Homo sapiens: one gene and its partners. The protein of the gene in region 2 interacts with the protein of the main gene of each other region in a biochemical or structural test. Each region holds a gene or a part of one and is shown on either strand. Other genes may lie near its edges.

Region 1 (7,031 bases), on a different chromosome or scaffold from region 2:
TTGTCAGTTACACGAGAGTATCTGCTATATCAATGAACTTTGAGGGCTGCAGTTGAAAGACTATTATTATAGGACCAAGGTAAGTGCCCTGCAAGAAATGTCTATTTCTTGACTATCAGCTACAGCAAAATGAAGACAGAGAGAGAAGAGAAAGAGGAGACTTATAGTGGTCAAGAGATGAAATCAGCGTAATAGGTTTCAGGAGATGTATTGGCTGCAGATGAAATGGATTCTTTTAACCAGGTTAGCAGCTGAGTATGCATGAGAATAGAGTAGTTCCGACACTGAAGAATGTGGGAGCATTCTAGAAGTATTATGGAAAGTGAACACACCGGGGTTTTCAGAGGCAAATCTGTGGTGAGTGTGTGCTTAGCTGTACGTCTCCTGATGGATTCTCCCTGCATGAGAGAGGCTATTTCTAGGTTAGCAGGAATTTCTGGTGACTTTAATTCATGATATTAAAGGTAAGTAAATTGAGTATTCACTTTAGAGGAGGTCTCCGTGGATAAGCCTGCGGGAGTTGCTGTGCTGATGAGACTTGGCTGTCCTCATAAGCAGTGACTCCCATCAGCTGGTGTCCATGAGCGTGAGCAAGTGTACGCTATGTACAGGGCCAACAAGCGAAGAACTTTCCATTAATTTTCCCTCCATCTCCTACAATGGCTCTTCTTCACAAAGAAGATCATCACTGTGAGGCATGTTCTCGTGGCTCTGGTGGGCTGGCGTGAAGCCCCTCTACTGACTCCCTGTCTACTCATGGGGAAGGCAGGTGGCTGGGGTAGCCATAAGACATCCCACTGATGGTTTTCAGGAAATGCAACCTGTAACCCCGGCTGCCTGCCACTCCCAGAGCCAGGAAGAGGGAGGACAAATGCAAGGGCCAGAGAAGACGAAAGGCAAGAATAGCCTCTTAGGAGAAATTGTGTGTGCTAAGCCCGCTTGTATGGGGCTCCCTCAAGAGAGTTCAGTGTTCTTTAGCTGTTTCTTCTTTTTTACTACGTTTTTATGAAGTAGGATGATTTCAGAGCATTAAGAGTGTGCTGATAGCCATAAAGGAAAAAACTTTTAAAAACATTGAATCAGGGTTTGATAGGAAATGTCCACACTTCTTAAATTTGTATCAATATCTAAGTGATTTTCACGAGTGCTATTGTGTGTTTTTTTCTAAGGATGATCTATTCCCTCAGATGTCAAGCCAAGCTCCTAATTCACCGATCAGAATTGCCTGTTATCAAATGTCCAGACTTTTTATCAAAGGAAAATCAACGATGAGAGAAATGAATGCTTTAAAATGCAAATGAGTTTAAAGGGAGGAGATGAGTTAAGACGAGGGTCTGATGGGACATGAAAGGCAGGACCGCATCCAAGCCAATCACTTATCTTTACTCTTGTTTCTAATTTCTCAAAGACCCCAAGTTTCAGCTTCATCTCATACACTCATTATCATCTTTCAGAGAGCCAGCACCATCCCCTCATTTCAGTGTCTCGAGGTTCCCATGACCCCCGTTGTGTGTGAGCTCCCGGGGGGCCCTGTGGGCACTGGCACCCATGTGCACGTTCATTCAGGAGATGCTGGTGGGGCGGGCTGTGTCCATGACAGCACCTGCCAGTGGGATCTGCTCAGCGTCCACCCTCCCTAACATTTGCGGGATGATGCTTTGAGAGAAACACAAGAAACTTCAGGCAGAATCAGAATAGTCACCATAGAAAGACCAGAACACCGAACTGTCAGGGGAGAGAAGACAGTAAAATGTCTCTGTGTAGTAAAAGCAGATGAGTGAGCAACTGTGACCTTCCCACACAGAAGCACAGGTCAGGTGAGAGAAGACAGTAAAATGTCTCTGTGTAGTAAAAGCAGATGAGTGAGCAACTGTGACCTTCCCACACAGAAGGGCAGGAGCTCGGGTGCTCACACTTACCTGCCAGCTGTGTCACCAGGCCACAAAAATGCCGGCAACACAGCACACTGACGTGGTGGGGGCAACCAAACCAAAAACGACAAATTAAAGAAGTTCGCATGCAATTAGTACACTGTCCTTGGTCTGTTAAACTGTTTAATGAATGCATAAAAAGGCAGAAAAATATATAAAGCCAAAAGCTCATAATAAAATTAAATCATGATACAACCACCACAGGCAATTACCATCAAATACATTCCCATGATTTACAAATGTATCGCTTATACAGAGGAAGTTGCAAAATCACTGCCAGTACAGACACATCCAGTCTAATTAACTATCGTCTATTCATACAACAGCAACAACTGCAGCTCCTGAGACCACAGAAGGACACAGTGAGCAGCTGGTGACTGAGCCAGGGTAGCCTCCGATCAATAACTGATCAGAGTAATGAGACTTTGAGAGGAATGCCTATAAGAAATCTCAAAAGGTATTTGTTTGGGTGCAGAAACAAATGCACCCTCCACATTTGGATTTTCTCTAGAAGAATCTGTGGCCAAATCTCTTATCCAATGGAGGTACTGAGTGGCTGGATCAGTTACCATGCAAGCTCACGATGAATGAGATTGAATTTGGTTCTGTGTGCACACTGGGCTCTGGGGAGGGAGGACACCCCTGTGTGTTGCTGCTGCCTTCCGTGCTGTCTACTGTATCCTTCATGTGTCTCCAAATGGTACACGCCCCATGGGATTACAGAACACAGCTACAGAATTAGGATCTCATGGTAACAATGAGGAATTAGGTTACTGTAGAACTAAAATATGTTTAATGAAATTAAAATGCAATGGAAAAAAAATCAGGCAACAGAACATTCTGATGAATTTACAGGACTGATTATATCCCACGGCACTGAATGACAAACAGTTCTTCTCCATACAGTCGCAATTAGAGGCATAGAAGTCATACTGAATGCTGAATAGAAGAACACTGAGAAGAGCAGGTTATAAATGAAGGTTTTCACATAAAACAGAAAAATAGACAAAATCATCGGTAAGAAGCTAGCTTTCGAAAACCTCCCTAAAAGTACACGGCACGGAGAAGTGGGGTACTGGGATGTCCTGGCTGCTTTCTGCTTTGGGAACTATCCAAGTGGCACATCACCATGTCCAGCTTAGGTGTCTTGTGAAACCTTACTTCCTCCACATAAAAAGGAAGGAACGGTTTCCAAAGCTAATGTTTCCAGGCTCTGCCTCGTGACACTCAAGTGGCCTCAGATATGAGCACTGGCACAGAGTGATGCTGGAGAGGTCACTTAGAGAGAAGCTGCCGGGCCAAGCACACGACAATCTTGGCCCTAAGTGCTCACCCATTCCTCATGTGACCCTGACATTCCGGGGAACTGGGAAACCTGTTCCTTAAAGGCAACAACAGTCCTTTCTTTCCTCTCACAACAAAGGAGCATGTTCTCCGTGAATGCACTTTTCATTTACGGCTCTCAAAAGAATATGCCTTCTCAAGGAATTTTTAATGCACTTTTCTTGAATGTCAGCTCCCAGCAACACAAGCATGGGTGTTGTTAGGGCATTCCCGGGCTCGGGGGCGGCCGCTCCAACATGTGGTACCAGCGGCCATGTGCCCTCAAGGGGAGGGAGGAAGAGCACAGGAGGGTGGGAGGAGGACAAACAGCCCCTTTTATAGGGTCATGGGGGGGCTCCACTCAGAGTCTGGCAGGAATCTGCCAGGAAAACCTCGTTCTAGATAGGGAGAAGCAGAACTGTGTGTGGGGCAGGCCGCCGTGGTCCTGAGAGACAGGGCCCGGGCCTTCCACTGCTCGTTTGCACACCTCTTCGGCCTATCCCAAGGACCTTCCTAGCATATAAAAACAGGGGCTCTCCTGATTTGTAAACAGAACAACAAATAAAAATAAAAACAAAACCAAAAATTCCTCCATGGCAGCCCACCCAATGAATACCCCAGATTTTTAGGGCCATTGCGGGTCTGTAGCTGGGTGTAGAGAGAGTTAAGCTTTCATCTCCCATGTTTACAACACTTTGTGATAAAATAGTTGAGTGGAGCAATCACATCCCCACTGCGTGCGCTCCCCCGGGATGCCTCACAGCTGCTCTGTGATCACACGTGCAAATGTTATTATTATTATTTTTTGCCTTTGGCATCAAAGGGCAAGCCTGTTCATTAAAAAATCTTCTATATTCAACACTCCATAGTGAAAAGAATGGATACTTCAAAATTCCTAAAGCAATCATGTGAAAATTATTTTTATTTTTAAAATTTTTGAAAGTGTTTTGATTTTTATGGGTCCTTGATAATTGGCCAGCCCTGTTTTGCAAAGAGATGGACTATTTCTGAGACTAGAATGTTTTCTTTGAAAATATTGAAGAGTATAAGAGATTTAAGACAATAAAGGCTGTAATCTTACCATAAAGGAAGAAAAACATCTATGTGTGTCAATATTGTTTTGAGATAAAGTCACAATGATTGATATCAATGCTTTCACCATTTTATTTCAACTTAAACCAGTGTCACTCACATGAAGCTTATTTTATAATACATATTATCCAGTGATTTCATCTTTTCTGCACAGTTTAAGTACATTTTTTTTTTCTGTACCTTGAAGTAAGCAGAATAGTTCAAGCTTTCAAAACTGGTGATGCTGTATGCGTGAGGGATGCTTACATAATAGCAACGCTTTATTGGGCAACCCGAATCCATACATGTCTGGTGTGGTTTGATAGCTGGGCTTGAAAAAGTGCTTCCAGTTGAAATTAGCATTAGAAATCGGTTAGAACACCAACATTTCAGGGTGAGGGAGGACTGCTACAAAGGAAAAGAACATGTCTACAAATGCACTGAAAGAACTAGCCAGAATATGAATTCCATTAGTATCTAAGACACACAAAATGTCATTTACAAATAAGTCACGGCAAGTGTCACAACCTGAAATCTCAACTCAGACAGATGGTAGAGATGTTAACAGTTGCCTGAAACTTCGATGTGCTTTCACGCCCACAGGAAAGGTAAAACTGACATTTGTGTTTCTCTTCAACAATTTCATGATCAATAAAGAATTGCAGTTGGAGACTAAAGCAAATTCTAGAAACTCCTTAACTCCAAGTTGCCCTATGGTTTTTATGATTGCATGTTATCAGAATGAGGCGCTCTGTTCCACACTTTATTCAAAAGCCTTTTACGCTCCCACAAGGCCTTCTGGAATTCCAGAATCAGCCCTGCACACAGGCAGAAAAACAGCTTCATCTTACAGGTTGTGTGAGAACACCCAATAAACTAGGGACTTTTTTGGGAAAAACTTCTTTCTCTCCAAAATTACACAACCACCAAACACTCTAAACATCACGTAAAATACTGCATCTGCAATCTGAATGGCACTCAGGGACCAGCGCTTTGATGAACCAGCAGCCACAGGTTCTCCACTGACAATCAACTGCAGAAACCACTCCTAGACTCTGGACCCCATAGCAGAGTTTTTTTTTTTTGTAATACATTTTTATCCACATTTGCTTTTGAATAAAGAAACTTCTAAGACTCTGTATGCAAATTAATGGAATCACAAGATAATAAAGCTTTGATTCATAGACACTCATTTATCCCTCCCCCCTTCCACTTCTCAGACCACAGAGAACGTTTGCTCAAGGCGGATTTAAATTGAGGAGTTTGTTCAAAAGTCTTCCTCGACCTCAATCCTATGATTGTCGCAGAGCAACATGAAGCTAGCAGCACTGACTCCAGGAAAAAACGAGCATAACCCAGTGTTGAACCCCAGCGTGTGGGCTGCAGAGGCAACATCAGTCATCAAGTCCGCAAGCACACACCACCAGAGACCCTGAGAATGTGGCTCTCTTTCTGCAACGCCCATGTCCAGGCACCCTTAGAGATCCAGAATTCAGCATGTCCTTACATTCCTGAGCCACACCCCGGCCACCATCCCTTGTGAGGAAAAGAGGGGGTGAGTTAAACGAAAACGTCCTAAGCAGCCACTCAGGCCCACACTCTTGGGCTCATATGCATTCTCCAGCACGGAACGAGACCTTAGACAGCAAGAGGCTACGTGCCAGTTCTTCCTCTAATGGCTGAGTTCACCTACTGATTTCTCCTTTGCTTTTTCCATTTAAACTAAAACTCCTCTACTCCTCAGAGCTCACCTTGCCAGAGCCCCGCTTGGGCGCACCCCTGTCACCGCCAAAGAAGCGCCCGATGGAGTCAAGGATGCCCGTGTCTCTGTGCCTTGGGAGGAAGCCATGCCTGGCATGGTCCATGGTACTTGCTGTGGCCAGGTACTTGGATCCGTGCCTCTGGGAGGGTCTCTTCTGTGACGCCATCACATCCAGGCTCTCGGAGGTGGCTGCACTGTCTTCTTGGATGGTCTGGAGCTCGTCGGACTCAGAGGGCCTGTCTTTGAAGGTGTTGTCCTCCCTCCCCGGGGCATCTCGGGAAAAGAGGCGGATCAAGTGGGGGCGGCTCCCTGGGTCAGCTGGGTGGGCATCCTGCCAGGCATTCTTCGGGTCCGCTGTGCGCTTGGAGTCAGTCACCGCTGTGTCCTGAGAGGAGGTCCCATTGTTCTGGTTCGCATCTGCCTCTCCTGCAAACAACAATGAGATATGAATACGGGCCTGTGCAAAGCTGAGCACCGGACAAAGCAGCTTTCTCTGAGGGGTCTTGACCTAGCTGTCTCCTATAAAACCCACAGAATATGTGCAGTCCTCATAAAGCCCTTGGCCTAGGATGGAGCTAACCTGGATGGAGCAGCCTTATTGCAGCTCTGTGTTTCAGAAGGCTCTGGGAATTCCTCAGTTACTCGAGATTTGGCACCCAGCGTAAAATGCACCCAGGCTTCCCGATGAAGTCATCTGAGCATGCAGAGCAGCCACATCAGCGTTTCTTCCCGGGTGCTGCCATGGCTGCTCCCGGAGAGCCCAGATGTGCAGGCACCTTGATGGGACATTGACTGTTTAAAAGGCCACTGGTGCATAAGTTAAATATGCAAGGAGCATTTATTTGACAAAAGGTGTTTTTAGTTTTCTTGGTAGAAACAAAACTTGCCACATCTTTTTGCAATTCATGCATGAAAGAAGTGGGGCATTTAGAATTGTTTCAATC
Region 2 (4,725 bases):
GAAGCTGCTCTGTTGGCTTGGCAAAGAAGAGTGACACATGTCAGAGTGAGGATAAGAGACCCTATTGAGTATCAGGATGCAAAATTATACATACGTTTTTCTACAAATTAAGACAACTTCCAATTTACTTGTCACATTATTTTGATGGAATATATGCAAATTAATGTTGTGTCCTATTGCTTGGTACAATCTTATACCAAAAGGCCTTCAGTGATTTCTAGGCATTTTTAAAGTTCAGAGTGCAGTTGTTCCTAATGTTTCTGAGAACGCCCTGTGTCGGTAATTTTTAAAATTCTGTCTACACCCAAATGTAGGTATACCACCTACATTGGCAATTCAGTAATTTGGAAAATTCCCAGGGGACTGTGGCTTACAGAAACTACTGATCCAAAACACTTTATAGATTAGCAAAATAAGGCCAAGAGAGGGAAAGAAACCTCACATTTACTCAAGTTTAATGACAACACTCAAATCAATGAAGTATAAAATAATGCTGAGACACCTTCTGGTACCCAAAGTGTCCTTTATTCTTTATCATCCTATTTGAGTTTTATTGTTTTTACACAGCTGGGAAATGCTTAAGGTACAAATTAATAAATTTTAAACTCAGTATGGAAAATACATTTAATAAATTAAAGCAAAAACCAAAGATCTGAGGAGATCCAAGAGATCAAGACAATCTGTAACCAGAGTCTGAAGTATCCAAGGAGCTACTCTTTTTGAGGCATATTCTCCTCAGCTTCCAGTTATCATTTGATAAACACATCAGCAAAAGGTTCAGTGTTTTAAACAAATGTAGACTTTATTTTGTACTGTACAAAGTGCTAATGTCAGTAGATCCATTAAAATATAGAATATTTAAGAAAGATCATTAATAAAAGTAATGGTCATTCAATTTAATGTTACAGTTTACAGCGTTTTACTGCTAGTGTTTTAAGTCAGCATGAGCAGTATCAAAGTACTTATGTAGCTAGTTTCTAAAACTTTACAGAAAACCCAGTACAATTCCAAGTGCTTATAGCCAATATAAGCATATTTCATATTAGAAATAGTTATCCATATGTTAACAAGAAACTATGGTCCTCAAATATGCCAATTTTAGAGTCTAATAACTACTGATAGTAACTATGTAAATATTTTGGAATAAACAGTTATTTACGCAAGCCACACTTCAGCTGAGATGATCACTAGACATCTGTTTCCAGAGCTTCAACAATGTGTGCAGCAGAAGGACGATCTTTAGGGTCTTCATTAGTGCATACAGAGAAGAGTTCAATTACTTTCTGGTATGATTCATCCAGTTCTTCCATATTAATAGGTGGCCTAGTTCCCAACGCTGCATAGTATGCTTCATCATCAAAATCACTTTCATCAAAAGTTTTATCTTGAAGGAGTTAGAGATTGAAACAATAAACAAAATCACTTTATGTCATGGAAAAGTTTAATAGCTCACCCTTCTCCTGAAACAAGAATTTATGGTCCAGTATGCTTTCCATTCTGCCACAGACAGAATGGAAATGTCTTCAATTGTCCTGCCATCAAGTAGATTTGCTTTAGTCTTGGATTTATAGGTTATCGACCCCTACTTTTACCCTTCCTGTGATAGTTTTCCAATCAATCATTTTCTCAGGAAAGGGGAGTTTTTAAGATAATGTTTTGCTTCTCTGGATAGCCTCAATTTTTCTCCCTATTCTCAATCTATGTCTCATTTGTGTGAGATTAAACCTTGGTGGTACCAAATCAGTCATCAGTACTAATACATATCTTAGAAAGATAAAATTATATAATCTTTAGTGTGAAATGAAGAGATTGGGATTTATGTTAGAAATTGTATTCATACCTTCATCATCATCATCATTTGAAAGATTAATGTGTGGAATCGATAAAGTCATCATTTCCCACAAAGTAAGGCCAAAGGCAAATATGTCTGCCTTGTCAGTAATAACACCATTCTCCTCCACAGCTTCTTTGGGTTTCCATGGCTCTGTGCCAATGTAACAAGCCTCAGGGTCAGTCACTGAAACAAGCAAGATGGTTATGAAGGCAGGAGCTACAAATCACGAAAAGGCAAGCAACCCAAAGGGAAACAGGCGAACGATTTGAACAAGTAGTTCACAGGTTAATCAGTGTAGCCAGAAAATGTAAAAATACACTCAACCTCAATAAGGATTACTTTCTACCTTTCAGGTTGGTAAATATTCAAGAAGCTGGTCAGTTGGCAGGTATGTAGAGAAACAGCAATTCTCTTACAAATTAGTAGGAATATAGAATGTGGATGTTGAGATTACAGACTCTGGAGCCAGACTGCCTTGCTTGGGTTGGTTCAAAGACATGTGTGTGCAAGCTGCGTGACCTTGAGCAGATCACTTCTAGACCTGAATTTCTTCATTTTGTGAACAATATTAGGCTGAGAGAAGTACCATTTCTATGCTTCCATGATTGCTATGTCAAGGAAAAGGGAAAGGGACCAATCACACATAGGCTCTTTTTTAAAGCCCAAGAAAGAAATAGGTCCACTCACATTTCCATTTAAACTTGAGTCAACTTGTCAATTTCAATGAAAAAGCCAGCTAAAATTCTCATTAGGATTGGACTAAATCTCTGGATCAATTTAGTAAGCATTAACATCTTAATAGTATTGAGTCTTCCAAACCGCAGTCATATATTTCTCCACTTAGTTATATCTTACTGAATTTTCTCAGTGATGCTTTATAGTATTCATTACAGAGGTTTTAGACTTTTTTGGTTATTTATTCCGAAATATTTTGGGTTTTGGTACTTGTAAATAGATTTTAAACAATTCCATTTTCAATTATATACTGCTAATACACAGAAATGTAATCACTAACTTCACTATAGCTGTTTTATAGATTCCTTGGGATTTTCTACCTAAACAACATATCAACTGCAAACGGGGACAGTTTCGTCTCCTTTCCAATTTTGCCTTCTCCATTTTCTTGCCTTATTTTAGTGGCTAGGGCTATAGGACTGCTAAATAAAACTGGCAAGAGCAGGCATCCTGGTCTTGTTCCCTACTTCAGTATGATACCTGCAGGTTTTTCTTGTAGACAGCCTTTTTCAAGCTAAGATCCCTTCTATTTCTAGTTAGCTGAGAGGTTAACTAGATTTTAAACTAACTTTTAAATCAAGAATGGATGTTGGATTTTGTCAAACACTTTTTCGGTATCTATTGAGATATGTAGTTTTCAAATTTGATTAAAGACTTAAATGTTGGACCTAAAACCATAAAAACCCTAGAAGAAAACCTAGGCAATACCATTCAGGACATAGGCATGGGCAACGACTTCATGATTAAAACACCAAAAGCAATGGCAGCAAAAGCCAAAACAGACAAATGGGATCTAATTAAAGAGCTTCTGCACAGCAAAAGAAAGTACCATCAAAGTGAACAGGCAACCTACAGAATGGGAGAACATTTTTGCAATCGACCTATCTGACAAAGGGCTAATATCCAGAATCTACAAAGAACTCAAACAAATTTACAAGAAAAAAAAAAAAAAAAACATCAAAAAGTGGGCAAAGGATATGAACAGACAACTTCTCAAAAGAAGACATTTATGCAGCCAACAGACATGAAAAAATGCTCATCATCACTGGTCATCAAAGAAATGCAAATCAAAACCACAATGAGATACCATCTCATGCCAGTTAGAATGGCAATCATTAAAAAGTCAGGAAACAACAGATGCTGGAGAGGATGTGGAGAAATAGGAATGCTTTTACACTGTTGGTGGGACTGTAAACTAGTTCAACCATTGTGGAAGACAGTGTGGCAATCCCTCAAGGATCTAGAACTAGAAATACCATTTGACCCAGCAATCCCATTACTGGGTATACACCCAAAGGATTAGAAATCATGCTACTATAAAGACACATGTACACGTTTATGTTTATTGTGGCACTATTCACAATAGCAAAGACTTGGAACCAACCCAAATGTCCGTCAATGACTGGATTAAGAAAATGTGGCACATATACACCATGGAATACTATGCAGCCATAAAAAAGGATGAGTTCATATCCTTTGCAGGGACATGGATGCAGCTGGAAACCATCATTCTCAGCAAACTATCACAAGGACAGAAAACCAAACACCACATGTCCTGACTCATAGGTGGGAACTGAACAATAAGAACACTTGGACACAGGGTGGGGAACATCACACCCTGGGGCCTGTCATGGGGTAGGGGGGAGGGATAGCATTAGGAGAAATACCTAATGTAAATGACTAGTTAATGGGTGCAGCAAACCAACATGGCACATGTATACCTATGTAACAAACCTGCACATTGTGCACATGTACCCTAGAACTTAAACAATTTTGTTAATATGGTGAATTTTATTGACTCCTCCCCCAAGCTTTGAGGTATAATTAACAAATTATATATGTTTAAGGTATACAACTTGATGTTTGATATATGTAAACACTGACCTCATAGCCACAGTCAAGCTAATTAACATATCTATCACCTCATATAGTTACCATTTTTTTGTGTGTGTGAGAATACTCAAGATCTACTCTCAGCAAATCTCAAGTGTACAGTATTAACAAAGGGCACGAAGCTTCCATTATGCAGGATGAGTAAGTTCTGGTGACCTAACGTACAGCATAGTGAGGACATTGATTCTTGAATGTTACAACTTTTCCTTCCTGGAATAAGTCCTAGTTGGTCAAGATGTAGTGTTCTCATGTAGTATTAGACT
Region 3 (7,614 bases), on a different chromosome or scaffold from region 2:
GAGCCTGCTGTCACCTTGACACTGGCCCAGCAGAGTCCTGAAGCCTTCAGCCAGCCCCACCTCCAGCCTTTGCCCCAGCTGTGCGCCTGATCGATTCTTGAGACCCAAGTTAGAAGCCAGCTGTAGGGGGCTTTCCCCGTGCCCCAGGCTGGGCCCAGGGCTTCCTTGCAGCCTCCACAGGCACAAGCCGGCTTGCGCTGTGTCTGTCCCACACACCAGCTTGCCCTGTCTTTCCCAGGCTGAAACTCTCCTAAAGCTCCCTGTCATCCCAAAGTTCAATTCCTTCCTCTGGCTCAGGCCAGTGCCCACCTCTCTGGCCTTATAAGTCTGACCCCGGGGGGAGGCAGGAAGGAGATGACAAGAAACACAGAGGGGACTAAACCATCCAGGAGAAAGACAGCGAGGAAAAGGGGGAAACATTTGGAAGACAGCTGGGACACCACCCCCAGAGGGGTCTCACAGACCAAAACATGTAGAACACCAAGAGAAAGTTCTAGCAATAAAGCCAAGCAACGCCACAAATGCTACTCACAGGCACTCTCCCCACTATTTTTATTACTATTTTTTTTTTGAGACAGAGTTTCACTCATTTCCCAGACTGGAGTGCAGTGGTGCGATCTCAGCTCACTGCAACCTCGCTCACTGCAAGCCGCGCCATCATGCCCGGCTAATTTTTTTTTTTTTTTTTTTTTTAGTAGAGATGGGGTTTCACCATGTTGGCCAGACTGGTCTCGAACTCCTGACCTCAAGTGATCCGCCCGCCTCGGCCTCCCAAAGTGCTGGGATTACAGACGAGGGCCACCAAGCCTGACCTCACTTATTGTTTTTTAAAACCAAAAACATCTCAAAGCAAACAAGGGAAAGCTCCGCAAACAGCCTGGCAGCAGGAAACCCACGAGAGTTTCCCCGTAATAGGCGCCTCCAGGCGGGGGAAAACAAATTATAAGGGTGATTTATTTTTATCTTATTACAAACAGGTATTTTCCAAATTTTCTATGAAGCACAAGGAGATCTTTCCTTCCAGAATACTAGCAAACACAAAAAATTTTATTTTGTGAGTGCTTAAAAAGAGAAAAACCTGAACAAACTTGCTCTCCACCCACGCAGGTGATTCTCCACCCACGCAGGTGATTCTTCACCCACGCAGGTGATTCTGACTTTTGGGCAGTCGTCAGAAGATCAGATAGAAAACCTGAGTATCTTGGCGTTAGAATGAGTTGGACAGAGAGTGGATGTTGCCCCGGGGGCTTCAGGCACCATACCGGACATCCAGCATCTGAGATGAGTTAAAACGCACAGCTGGAGGTGACTTTCGAGATGAGGGTACACTTACAACATACAAGTTGTTTATGGCGCTGGGACCTGAGGTATCTAGTCCGCATATACAGTGACACGTATGCATTTACTGCCACAAAGATGGGTAAAAGTCAGGAGAACGCACTTAAGAGCCCAAGCGACATACTTAATGTCTGCTTGTCTAGGAGAGCAGGTTGACTCAGGACTTCAAATATGCTGGGATCTGGAGCCATAGTAAAGAACACATATGCTTGCCTAAAACCCAGGGATACCTTCCACAGCAGGAGCAGCACATCAAGATGGGACGATCATATTTAAAAACGACGGTTAAGGTGCAACCTAAAGTAAATCTCACATCTTGGCAATCGTGTGCAAAACTGCGCGCCTGACATCCCTATTGCACAGGGAAGCCCATCTAGTACTTGCACTGAGGTTTAAAACCTTGGGGTGCATGTCTGAGGACCCGGAAAGCACTTTTGAACAACTAGATGCGAATGCTGCAGGAAGGGGCGAAGGCAGTGGAGTGAAGGGGTACGTTTAAGTTGTGGGAGGTGATCTAAGTCTCGGTATCCATGTTTATGACCCCAGGAAGCCTGTTTAAGGTTTCAGTAGGGCTGCCACAGCTCTGTGCCATCCACACCGCTGAGGCAGTGTATTTAAGAAGCGGACCCGAGCGCGAACCCAGGGGAAATCTCACATCGGGGCAAGCGTGTGCACGGTGCAAAGTCGCGATGTGCGGTTTTACAGCCCCAGGTAAACCTTACGGTTTCTGAAAAGCATGTGCATCTTTTGGGTCCGGAGAAGCGTGTGCAGCCCAAAGTACCTGCGAAGCTGAATGTTTACGTTTAAGGTCTGGGCTCACGGCAGTCCATCAAAGCATCCCACATGTGGGCGCGGGCGCGTATTCTAGGTGCGCACTCCACGGGCACGGAGCGGCCGCCAGGGGAGAACGCCCACGGGTGCGACATCTGGGGGCGCTGGTACAAAGCGCGGGCCCCTCCCTCGCCGCTGTCCCCCAAAACCGCCCCCATTTCCAGGTTTCCTGCCCGGAGAGCGAGCAACTCTCCAATAGGAAAAACAAGCGAGCGTGCCGGCTGCCTGTCTGCCGCCCCCAGCCCGCGTTTAAATCGGGCCGCGGAGTCAGCAGTAATATGAGCCCGCCCCGCCCCCGTCCCCCAACCCCCCACCCCGGCCCGAACGCGCAACAAAGGGGAGAGCGCGGCGCGAACCACCGGGTGCTCCACGGGGGAACCCGGCCCCGGGCGGGACCACCCTTCGGGCCACAGGGGACACCCCGGAGCGGCGGGGGCTGCGGACAAAGGCGTGAGCCCGGGATAGGGGCTGGGGGGGCGGGGCCGTGGAAGGCTCTGGAAAAAGGGCGGGGGGCTCACCATGGGAGGGGCCGAGCGGGCCCGGATCCGCGGAGGCTGCGGGCCTCGGGGGCTGGCAGGCCAGGAGCGCGAGCGGACGGCGCGCACCACGAGGGGCCGCGGAGGGCGGCCGCGACCCCCGAGGGGGCCCCCGGCGCCGGAGCGGTACGGGGCACGGCGCGGACGGACCATGGCGGGCGCGGGCCGAGCGGGCGGGGAGCTGCCGCGGGCCACAAGGGGGGCTGCGGGCTCCACCGACTGAGGGGCGCGGGCGCGGGCGCGCGGCTTCGGGGGAGACGGGCTGAGCCGTACCAAGCTCGGGGGACGCGCCGCCGGAGTGGGGTCGCCGCGGCCGAACCACTGAGGCGAGCGGGGGAGCCCGGCGCGTACCAAGCGCGTCCGAGGGGGCGTGGCCGGAGCGTACCAAGGCGGCGCGGGGGAGCGGGGCCCGGGCGGGAGCGGAGTGTGGGCTCGGCGGTCCTGCGGGCCTCTCCGGCGCGGGGGAGTCCTGGGAAGACGCGCGAGCCACAACTTCAGGGGGCGTGGCGGGAACGGGAGCCCCTACCGAATGGGGTGGCAGAAGAACGAAGGCGACACCAAGCTGGCCCCTTGCGGGGGTCGGGACGGCGGGAGACCTCATCCGGAGCCCTGGGCCCGCAGAGCCAGGAGACCGCGCCAAAATACATCAGGGAAGAGGGGAGGACGGAATAATGGGCCTGGGGACAAAGGAACCCACTGAAAGGGAACCCACTGAGGGTACGGATTGCACCCGAGCCTGAGACAGCTGAAGGTTTGCAGTCGGTGACGTGGCGAGGTGGGCAAGGGACTCCAACTCCCAGCGGGCCCCGCGCGGCCTGGGCGGGGCCAGCTGTCCCTGGAGGCTCCGCCCATTAGCCCCGGCGCCCAGGCTCCGCCCGCCGTCCCTGGCGACTCCAAGCTTCTCGCCACTCACGTCGCTCCCCGGCCTTCCGTGGATTCGCTCATTCGCTCTGCTAAAATGGAATGACTACTTACTAGTAGTTGTATAAGATTTTTCCCTCGATTTTTGTTCCTTAAACGTGGGTAATACCTAACCCTAGAGTGGTTATGGGGATCGAGCCCGAGGGGCTGTGCTTGACTGCTTGGCGCAGTCACTACTCAAATGTTAGCTTTTCTTTAAAAACAACAACAAAAATCTGTTATGAGTACCCTGTCCAGTTCTGTGCTCGGCGACGACCGAATCAGACCACGTCCCTCACAGGCCCCACGGTCCACTGGGGAGAGACATAATCACAGGCTGTGCTAAGTGTTAACTAGCGCACATCCACAGGGCGATGGGATATGACCATAGCGAGGTAAAGTTAGCAAGCAAGGGAAGTCAAGAAAACGACCTGTGAGCAACCTGCCATTCCAGATGGCTGGAAAAGTGTGCAAAGAGGACAGAACAGCAAAGACAAATCCTGAAAGTAGAAGGAATAAAAGGGAGCCAGTGTGGGCGGAGTCGAGTGAAGGTAGAGAGGAGAAATAGACACAGCTGTAGGAGGTTAGAGACGGAGTCCCTACTTCTGTTTCGGATGTTGACTAAACAATGTAGATAGATATTGATGTCATAGCCTGGAGAGAGAAATTCGGGAGTCATCAGTGTTTGAATGGAGACTGGATGAGCTCACAAAGAGACTGGGACACTCATCCCTTTAGCAGTCACGACAATGAGAAGCAACCAGCAAAGGACACGGAGGAGTGGCCAGTGAAATGGCAGAAGAACCCGTAGGCCTGTCCATGTTTTCCTGCCCAGGGGCTCCCGAGGGCTGACTGGAGCCCAGCCTTAAACCCCAAATCCAACCTGCATTGTGGCCAAACGGAGTCAGTGCTCCCTGAACACAAACTGCAAGTTAGTTATCAACAGGTACCTCCAATGCCCTGTCAATCACCCATGTGAGGACAACCTGGCAGCAGGAAGGAGAAAAAACAGGAGCTGCTTTAATCTCCCGGAATCCTCACTTCTCCCCATTCTTGTTGGTCCAAACCATCAAGATCTCTTGCCTGGGTGACGTCTCCTAACTCTTGCTGCCTTCTCTGTCACTACAATAATCAAAACCATCCAATGGCTTCCCAGTGCCTTTAGAATTAAATCCAAACTTGGTACTGTGGCCCCTGCTGCCGCCCCCCAAAAAATCTCTCTCCCATCCTTCCTGTTCTCTACCTGTTAATGCCTTCCCATCCCTCAGAACCCATCAGGACACACGTGAGTTTGAATGCCCTGAATTGTATAAGCATGGAGAGCGGTATACCAGGGTGTACTCCAGAGTGAGCAAAATGGGAACTCATGTCAGAAAGTGAAATGAAAATGTAGGCTGAAATTCTATCAGTAATACTGCAACAAAACTCTCTGAAACCATCTCACTTAACTCGGTCCACCAACTTGAAAGACACTTTCCTTTTCATCTGTGAAGCCCACTGCTGGGGCTAGCAGGCTACTATTATGACTAAGCAATTCCACTTCCATCTCTCAAGCTGTTTACTTCCTGAAAGGTAGCTGTTTGATCCAAACCTGTTTATGCCAGAAGTTCTTGTTTAATTTACTATCAAACTAATGAAATTAATGCAAGACAGTTGTTTATACACAAACCAGATTGCTTGCTTTGGAAAGACTAAAAGGGAGTTGTTAAAAGAAAAACATGCCAGGCGTGGTGGCTCACACCTGTAATTCTGCACTTTGGGAAGCCGAGGTGGGCAGATCACTTCAGGTCAGGAGTTCAAGACCAGTCTGGCCAACATGGTGAAACACCGTCTCCACTAAAAATACAAAAGTTAACCGGGCATGGTGGTGTATGCCTGTAGTCCCAGCTACTCTGGAGGCTAAGGCAGGAGAATCGATTGAACCCAGGGGGTGGAGGTTGCAGTGAGCTGAGATCTCACCACTGCAACTCCAGCCTGAGCAACAAAGCAAGACTCCATCTCTTAAAAAAAAAAAAATGCTGCCAAGTTAGGTACAAGTAAAGCAACTGTAAATTATTTAATGAAAAAGCTTATAAAAACCTAGGAAGACTCAGCCCCCAGTTTGTTTCATAAATGTCTTTAGGTTCTCAAGCCACTTAAAAAAATGACTCATTGTGGTTTGTGGGTGGAGCTTATACAAGAATGTGATGTTCTACTGGGCGCAGTGGCTCATGCCCGTAATCCCAACACATTGGGAGGCTGAGGTGGGAAGATTGCTTGAGCCCAGGAGCTCGAGACCAGCCTGGGCAACACAGTGAGACTCCCACCTCTACAAAAACAACAATAATTTTCTAGGCATGGTGGCATGCACCTGTGGTCCCAGCTACTCAGGAGGCTGAGGTGGGAGGATCTCTTGAGTCCAGGAGATTGAGGCTGTAGTGAGCCGTGTTCACACCACTGCACTTCAGTCCAAGTGACAAAGTGAGACCCTGTCTCAAAAACAAGAATGTAATGTCGTGTGCTAACTAGGAGACCAATACTGAAAGAAAGGGTCTTGGTCCTACGTACAAGAGATGTCTGTTTAAATGTTCTTGGTTAAAATAAGATGTTTAAAGTGTTAAGATGGCCGTTAGTGCTATTTGCCATATATTTCTAGCTCCACACTTGGCCAGCATTTGACCCCATTTAGCTTGAGTGCGGCCATGTGATTAATTTTGGCCAGTAAGGTGTGAGGCCATGTGATTACATCTGGCCAATGAGATATGAGCAGAAGTGACACATGTGAATTCAGCAAGAGCACATAATTGCTAATGGAAGACCAGACCCCTCTGCCTTTACTATGTCCATTGGCAACCTTCATGATCTGTCCGCACGGGCTCCAAGCTGACACTCAATACAGCACGAGTGACAAAATCCACCTTGGCTGTTTCAAGCCACTGCAATCTGGGGGTAATCTGGCCTTTCCTGATATACACAATTTTTTTTTCCCAAATAATCCCAGTTTAACCAACATTTGTTAAACCAATCAACTACCAAGTCTGAGTTTCCTAGAAGAACAAACTGGCAGTACATATAGGTTGGATGACATAGGCTAGGACACAATGACAACATGGACAAAGTGTTTTATACTGGCCGGGCACGGTGGCTCATGCCTGTAATCCTAGCACTTTGGGAGGCTGAGGCAGGTGGATCACCTGTTGTCAGGAGACCAGCCTGGCCAACCTGGTGAAACCCCATCTCTACTAAAAATACAAAAATTAGCCAGACGTGGTGGCAGGCGCCTGCAATCCCAGCTACTCAGGAATACAAATACAGTCTCCTGATTGATCCTCCAATTCAAGCAGGAGAATTGCTTAAACCCGGGGAGGCGGAGGTTGCAGTGAGCTGCACTCCAATCTGGGCGACAGAGCGACATTCTGTCTCAAAAAATGCTAATAGGCTGGGTGCGGTGGCTCACACCTGTAATCCCAGCACTTTGGGAGGCTGAGGCGGGCAAATCATGAGGTCAGGAGTTCAAGACCAGCCTGGCCAACATGGTGAAACCATGTCTGTACTAAAAATACAAAAAATTAGCTGGGCATGGTAGTGGGTGCCTGTAATCCCAGCTACTTGGGAAGCTGAGGCAGGAGAATCACTTGAACCCAGGAGGCGGAGGTTGCATTGAGCTGAGATTGTGCCACTGCACTCCAGCCCAGGTAACAGTGTGAGACTCCGTCTCAAAACAAACAAATAAAAAAGATAATAAAATGCTTTATGCTAAGAAATGGGAGTAAGATCATCTCTGGCTTGGATTTTTCTTTTCTTTCTTTGCAATTACAAAATAGTTTATGGCTGATTTTTTTTTTAAAGGTCTGCCTGATACATGCTTTGCAAACTCTAGGTATTTCAACTTTGTCATCATCGTGTGTGTCCAGACGCAGAGGCTCACACCTGTAGTTTCAACACTTTGGGAGGCTGAGGTTGGAGCATTGCTTGAGCCCAGGAGTTTGAGACCAGCCTGGGCAACATAGCAAGACCCCATCTCTACAAC
Region 4 (7,215 bases), on a different chromosome or scaffold from region 2:
GCTAAATCCTGTTTGAATGTCATTGTAAATAAAGCCTCTGCTCTCAGATGTAATACGTTGGTCGTTCTGGACACGCACTTCCATCTTTATTAGTGAAAGCCCATTGGAGCTTGCTACAGGGGCTTCCTGTGCTTCTTGGCCTGGACTTTGTAGTGGCTCCAGGCCTGGTCTGGTTCTTCCCTGTAAAAATCACTCTACCACTCTGTACCTGAGTTTCCTCTACCATAAAATGAGGGAGATGGCTGAGGTGACCAGCAAGCACGTTTCCAGTTCTAAAATGTTGTGATTCATTACATTTTTGAGAAAATGACTTTGTTGTTTTAATTTAAGGAGGCACTTCAATTTTAAGCGTTTGTTTCTTATTGCAGAATGAAAGATTGTGTGCCATTAGAGCCATTTCAGGCATCAGCAAACAGTGCTCCTATAAATGTGCCAGCACCCTCCTCATTACTGATGCTAGTAGCCTTTCTCTCTCTCTTTACCTTTTAAAAATGATGAAATATAGGCCAGGTGCTGTGGCTCATGCCTGTAATCACTGCACTTTTGGAGGCCGAGGCAAGAGGAACGCTTGAACCCCGGAGTTTGAGACCAGCCTGGATAACATGGGAAGACCCCGTCTCTACAAAAAATAAAAAAATTAGCCGAGGGTGGTGGCACACACCTGTATTCCTAGCTACTGGGGAGGCTGAGGTGGGAGGATCCTTTGAGCCCAGGAGGTCGAGGCTGCAGTAAGCTGTGACCTTGTCTCAAAAAAAAAAAAAAAAAGAAGGAATTACAACCACCTATATTAGTGGCCTCTTTTCAGGCCTCTTCCAACTTGATCTCACTGATGACTATGCTTTCCTTGAAATTGTCTTATTCAGCTTCCATAATACCCTTTCTTTGTCCTCCCACAGTCTCTTAGGTTGTTCTTTGATTACTCCTCTCTGCTCATCCCATTTGCTGACATCTCCCCTCTCTCTGTCCTTTGTTGTCATCCACTTCCAGATCTCAAGCCTTCATCTCACTCCTTAGCGCCACACAAGTATTTCCTACCTGGTCATTCCACAGGCACTTCAAACTCAGCATGTACAAAATAAACTCATGAGTGGAAGCTCCTGTCCCTACTTGAATCCTTTAATCTGCTCTTCTTCCTGTATTCCCAAACTTTGTTCAAATGAGCAAAAAATTGTATTCTTGACCTCAGATTTTTTCTTTCTATGCCCCACCTTCAGCTGGTTCCCTTGTGCTATTGGTTCTTATTTCTAAATGTCTCTAGTTCATCTTCTCCTCACCATCCCTACGACAGAGGTCTTTATTGTCTCTTGCCTGGGTTTTTGCAAGAGTGTGCCTCCCAGCTGCTCATTCTTCCATCTGTTCCCCATTCCACAGTGCTGCCACTTACTAAAAGGAAGAAAGAAAATCAAAACCTGAGTTACTGGATCATCAAAAGTATTCTTCCTATAGAATAATGATCATTCTGGGCCCCGCACGGTGGCTCACACCTGTAATCCTAGCACTTTGGGAGGCCGAGGCAGGCAAATCACTTGAGGTCAGGAGTTTGAGACCAGCTTGGCCAGCATGGTGAAACTCTGTCTCTACTAAAATATAAAAATTAGCCAGCTGTGGAGGCGCGCACCTGTAGTCCCAGCTACTCATGAGGCTGAGGTGGGAGAATCGCTTGAACCCAGGAGGCAGAGGCTGCAGTGAACCGAGATCATGCCACTGGACTCCAGCCTGGGCAACAGAGCAAGACTCTGTCTCAAAAAATAAATAAATAAATAAGAATAATGATAATTCTGTATAAGAATATATTCCAAGGAAAAGGCATTCCTCAAGCATCTAGCTAGAATTTTGAGTGTTATGTCAAGCTAGTGTGCAAGACCAAAGACACTGCCAACAGGGCTGTTAATTCACAGAAAGAATAGGTGGCATCAGAAAAAGATTAAACAGTGGCAAAACATTGCACTTCCATCCAGTAGAAATATATGACCCTGTAATAGGATTTTTTTTTTTTTTTTTTTTTTTTTTTGAGAAAGGGTCTTGCTTTGTCGTCTAGGCTGGAGTGCAGTGGCGTGACCATGCCTCACTGCAGCCTTGACCTCCTGGGCTCAAGTGATCCTCCCACCTCAGCCTCCCAAGTAGCTGGAACTACAGGCTCATACCACCACACCTGGCTAATTTTTGTATTTTTTATAGAGACAGGGTTTTGCCACAGTGCCCAGGCTAAGGTCATATATTATAAACGCGTATTACACAGTGTTTTACATGCTGCGTTTATGCTCTGAATGGATATCTTTGCATCAGTTCTATGACTTTGTTAGCCTCAGCACCTCAGTGTAAAGGACAAGAGAGAAAAAATTGCCTTTTCTTTGGATACTTCATAATGCTGGTGCTAAGAACAAGTATGAAGATCACAAATTTGTGAAGCTTTCTGAAAAGCTCTCCTGTTAATTTAATCAACAAAGAATGCAAGTAAATTTTAAAAGTAGTGCTACCATCTACTCTATTAGTGGTGTCAATGTTAATCACAGAGTGCAAGGAAATTGAAAAAGTGGTGCCTGTCGCCCACTGTGTTGGTGCTGTGAATGTTTGGCATGCTGCTGACAAGTTAAAAAGAACATGGAAGCCGGGCGCGTTGGCTCACGCCTGTAATCCCAACACTTTGGGAGGCCGAGGCAGGCGGATCACCTGAGGTCAGGAGTTCAAGACCAGCCTGGCCAACATGGCAAAACCCCGTCTCTATTAAAAATACAAAAAAAAAAAGTATCCAGGCATGGTGGTGCGTGCCTGTAGTCCCAGCTACTCGGGAAGCTGAGGCACAAGAATTGCTTGAACCCAGGTAGCGGAGGTTGCAGTGAGCTGAGATTGGGCCACTGCACTACAGCCTGGGTGACAGAGCGAGACTCCGTCTCAATTAAAAAAAGTAAAAAGAACATTGAAAGCACTAATGAAGTTTTTCTGAAAATAAGAAAAATATGGTTCTGAAGGTGAAGCAAACAAGCATCCTTTACCTTTAGGGAAAAGGCATATGAAGAGGATTCACTTAAGTTACAGTTGGCCAATAAACACGAAAAATGTGCAATTTCAATTATAATCAAGTGCCAAACAAGGAAATGCCAGTATTATTATTTTACCTACAAAATGAGCAAAGATGTTTAGAAGTACAATAGAATTCAGCCCTGCTGAGGGTAACAAAAGGAGGGTACTTTTCCGGTGAGGCTTTGTGCAGAAGGCAAATTAATAAAGGGAGCATTCAGTAATTACACCTCTAGGAATCAGCCGTACGAAAATGCAGGATGCATTTATAAATACATACATACACAAAGATTTATGTATGAAGATATTCAGCCCAGCCTTATCTTTTAAATTATCATCTAAATATCAATAGCAGAATGGGCGAGATATCTACACACCAGGATTCATGCCACCATGCCACCATGAATCACTGGGAAAAAACGGTGATATATAAGCATTTAGGGATGTAACATGTTCATCGAGGAAAGGAGGCTACAAAAGTAATGTCTATTTTGAGTTTTAAATTTTTCATGTAACGATTTAGAAACTCATCTAATTTGATAACGTGACTTAGGCAAATCATTCAAATCTTTTTGCGTTTCCTCTGCAATGGCGATTGTGGAGGTTAAATGGGATAACTGGCGTTGAAACGTTCCAGGCCCATGAGCAGGACTCAATGTTCCTTCCCTTCCCCTTTAGTGTATGGCTTCTTACATCTGGGGAAGAGTCCCACCAAAGATCGATTCCAAGCTTCGCTTCTTGGATGAGCGAGGGAAACTAGGCGCTAACTTACCTATTCACCCCCGCGCCCGTTCCCGGCAGCCGGGACTCAGGGAAGCCAGGTAGCCGCGGTGCTCTCAACTCCCTCCCCGCCCGCGCACTTCGAATCCAAACTGCGCGGGGCGAGGCGGGGCGGCGCTCCGATGAGGTAGCTGGCTTGGGAGAGGAGTCCCTTGAGGCTGCCGCCAAGCCAGGGAAGCGGGAGGCGCAGGCCACGCCCGGCCACTCACAGACAGTGACGTCATCCCCCGCCGCCACTCCGGCGCTTCCCAGGCCCTGCTCGCGAGTCCCCACCCCGATTGCGCACCCGCGACTTCAGCCCGAGGGGCGGGGATTTTCTTGGAGCGACGGGACGCGACGCCAATCGCGACGAGGCTTCGCCCCGTGGCGCGGTTTGAAATTTTGCGGGGCTCAACGGCTCGCGGAGCGGCTACGCGGAGTGACATCGCCGGTGTTTGCGGGTGGTTGTTGCTCTCGGGGCCGTGTGGAGTAGGTCTGGACCTGGACTCACGGCTGCTTGGAGCGTCCGCCATGAGGAGAAGGTGCGGGTTGCGGGGAAATCGAGGGGACGCGGGAGGGAGCGACGCTCGTTTCGGCTGCGGGGCCTGTTCAGGGGTGCGGGACCCGTGCGGGGTCCCGGGCCTAGATCGTCACGGCAGTCGGCGCCGAGGGAGGCCGGGGGCGCTGAGGGGCAGGGTCTGGAGGCGGCGAGCCAGTGCGAGGGCCGCGGCGGTGAGACCTGACGCGCTGTCCGCCGGCGGCCGCAGGTGCCCGCAGGCTCAGACGCCCGGGTGGGAGCCGAGCGCCGGTGCCCGGACGCGGCAGGGTAGTCGAGGCCCGGGGCCCGGGGCGGCCTCCACCCAGGCGGTCAGCGCTGGCGCTCGGACCCCACCCTCCCCGCCCGCAGCGTCTCAGGTGCCGCTGCTTGGCGCAGATGACTCGTTGTAAACCTTCTGTGGTCGTGGCTTTTCTTTAAAGCTGTTAAGTTTATTTATCGTTGTTTTTCTTTGTTTTATTCTTTTTTTTTATTTTTGTGGAAACGCGGTCTATGTTGGCCAGGCTGGTCTCGAACTCCTGGCTTCAAGTAATCCTGCCACCTCGGCCTCCCAAAGTGTTGGGATTACAGGCGTGAGCCACCGTGCCCGGCCCGTTGTTTTTCTTTATATCTGGCCAGCGGTGTTAACGTTTTGTTTGAATTGGAAAGATAGCTTTGTTTCTTTGCAAGTTAAGAAACGGATTATGGAATTCTTTTCCGGTCGTTTTAATAACTTCCTAGGCGGTGTTGGGGAGGGACTGTCCGACTTGAAATCGGGACCAGACGGTGACACTGCCACTTACCAACCTTGTGACTTCCAAATATTAACTTTATTTTCTAAAAGTTGTGGATGCAGTTTTCTGATGATACAGCGTTAAATAATGTGTAGTTTTTGGTGGAACTGATTGTTCTAAGGCTTTGTAAGATTCTTCATTTCATGATCACTAATTCTGATCAGTCTTTTTAAAATGCTTGCCCTCAGAATAATGAGAATTGAGTGCCAACATGGTAAAACCTTGTCTTAACTAAAAATACAAAAATTATCTGGCCCTGGTGGCGCGCCTGTACCCCCAGCTTTTCAGGAGGCTGAGGCAGGAGAATCGCTTCAGCCTAGGAGGCAGAGGTTGCATGAGCCGACATCTCGACACTGCACTCCAGCCTAGGCGACAGAGTGAGACTACGTCTCAAAAAAAAAAAAAAAAGTCCATTAACAGTTTATGAATTATGTAGGCATCTCCTCTATCAAGGGATTGAATGAAGCAGGAGAAAACTTACCCTTTAATGTTGGTTCCAGGCTAATGGATATAATTAACTTTTTTTTTTTTTTTTTTTTTTTTTTTTTTGAGACGGGGTCTCACTCTGTCGCCCAGGCTGGAGTGTAGTGGCGAGATTGCTCACTGCAGCTTTGACCTCTGAGGCTCAAACGAAACTCTGGCCAGAATTAATTATGGTTATCGATCCCCGAAACAGGTTGAACTGGAGATCAACAAAGCTCCTTCTCTGGAATGCTAAGAAAAAATAGGGCAGTGGATCAGTGAAGGCTGCCTGAAGGTAGAAAATAATTTAAGGACCACTGTGAGATACCTTCCAGTCCAGTGATTTATGTTCAAGACTGGAAAAACTGACTCATTTTACAACCTTTTTGTCCTTGAGTGGTAGTCTTTGTATGCACTCTTGATTTTTTTCAGTGAATCTAAAAAAAAAACTCAGACTTGCTGCTTTTAGGGGATTATCTGAAACAATTTAGCCAGGGAGTATTTAAGTGTATCATGATAATTGTTCATAATGATTGCTCTGAAGCATCTTAAGATCATACAACTTTTTTGAAATGTCACGTTATTCATTCAAAAAGACTTCTTGGGCCTGGCACAGTGGCTCACACCTGTAATCCCAGCACTTTGGGAGGCCAAGGTGGGAGGATGACTTGAGCCCAGGAGTTCAAGACCAGCCTGGGCAACATAGCAAGACCCTGTCTCTATTTAAAAAATAATAATTTATACTAAAAAAGAAAAGAAAAATACTTCTTGAATGTTTGTTATATACAAGGAACCATTGCAAGTGTTGGGGATATAGCAGTGAGCAAAAGTGACATCCCTGCCCTCACAGAGTTTATATTCTAATAGCAAAAGAGGAGTGTAATAAATAAGTTAGTCTTAAATGGTGGTAAGTGCTATGTAGAGAAATCAAGAGGTTAAGAAGTACTGAAGGTGTAGGAAGGGGGGTTGTGGTTTTAAAGAGATGGGTCAGGAAAGGCCTCCCTGAGAAGGTGATCTCTGAGCAAAGACCTAAGAAGGAAAAGGGTGAAGCCATGCAGCATGGGGGAAAAGAGATCTAGGTAGAGGAATCAGCAAATCCAAGTGCCCTAAGGGGAGATAGCGCCTGGTATGTTCCAGAAAGAGCAAGGAGGTCGCTGTGACAGGAATAGAATGAGCACTGAGGTCAAAAGAAATGGCTTTCAGATGGAATGGGGCTCCATAGGTCTTTGGAAAGTCAGAGGCTTTTCCTTAGAGTGAGATGGCAAGTCGTTGGAGGGTTCTGAGTAGAAGATTAGGACTTGGGGCTCCTGTGTTGACAATGGACTTAAGGAGGCCAGCTTCGAAGCCGGGAGACCAGTTAAGAGGCCCCTGCCATACAGCAAGAAGTTGGTGGTGGTGACCTGGACCAGGGTGGGGGTGGTAGTGGTAGCAGCAGAGGTCAGGAGGAGTGAGATTCTGCCTGTCTTGTGTAGATAATGCTAATGGCGGGCATATAAGAAAGAAGTGTCAAGGATGATACAAGATTTAAGTTTAAAAAAAAAATTAAGTTCAGTACAATTTGAATGTTAGGAAGAGTGAGAAATGTTAGTTTTTAATTTGAAAATGATCCTCTTACAGGAAGTGTCTCTAACTAGAATAATAATAATG

What was found.
Region 1: of the proteins of PBK (region 2) and MBP, one has a biochemical effect on the other in vitro, tested with the Homo sapiens proteins (one study listed by IntAct).
Region 3: of the proteins of PBK (region 2) and PTOV1, one has a biochemical effect on the other in vitro, tested with the Homo sapiens proteins (one study listed by BioGRID).
Region 4: the proteins of PBK (region 2) and PRC1 form a complex in vitro, tested with the Homo sapiens proteins (one study listed by BioGRID).

What each region holds. Positions count from the first base shown.
Region 1 is NC_000018.10:77,010,756-77,017,786, forward strand, and holds part of MBP (Golli-MBP), read right to left. Parts: intron 6,514-7,031; coding exon 6,077-6,513; coding exon of another isoform or gene 6,059-6,076; exon of another isoform or gene 2,038-6,058; intron 1-2,037. UniProt on the Homo sapiens protein: The classic group of MBP isoforms (isoform 4-isoform 14) are with PLP the most abundant protein components of the myelin membrane in the CNS. They have a role in both its formation and stabilization.
Region 2 is NC_000008.11:27,809,118-27,813,842, forward strand, and holds the end of PBK (lymphokine-activated killer T-cell-originated protein kinase), read right to left. Parts: exon of another isoform or gene 2,051-4,725; coding exon of another isoform or gene 2,018-2,050; coding exon 1,841-2,017; exon of another isoform or gene 1,385-1,840; coding exon 1,188-1,384; 3' UTR 507-1,187; downstream 1-506. UniProt on the Homo sapiens protein: Phosphorylates MAP kinase p38. Seems to be active only in mitosis. May also play a role in the activation of lymphoid cells.
Region 3 is NC_000019.10:49,846,573-49,854,186, reverse strand, and holds the start of PTOV1 (prostate tumor-overexpressed gene 1 protein), read right to left. Parts: upstream 3,029-7,614; 5' UTR 2,859-3,028; coding exon 2,688-2,858; intron 2,620-2,687; exon of another isoform or gene 2,511-2,619; intron 1-2,510. UniProt on the Homo sapiens protein: May activate transcription. Required for nuclear translocation of FLOT1. Promotes cell proliferation.
Region 4 is NC_000015.10:90,991,511-90,998,725, reverse strand, and holds the start of PRC1 (protein regulator of cytokinesis 1), read left to right. Parts: upstream 1-4,190; 5' UTR 4,191-4,308; coding exon 4,309-4,319; intron 4,320-7,215. UniProt on the Homo sapiens protein: Key regulator of cytokinesis that cross-links antiparrallel microtubules at an average distance of 35 nM. Essential for controlling the spatiotemporal formation of the midzone and successful cytokinesis.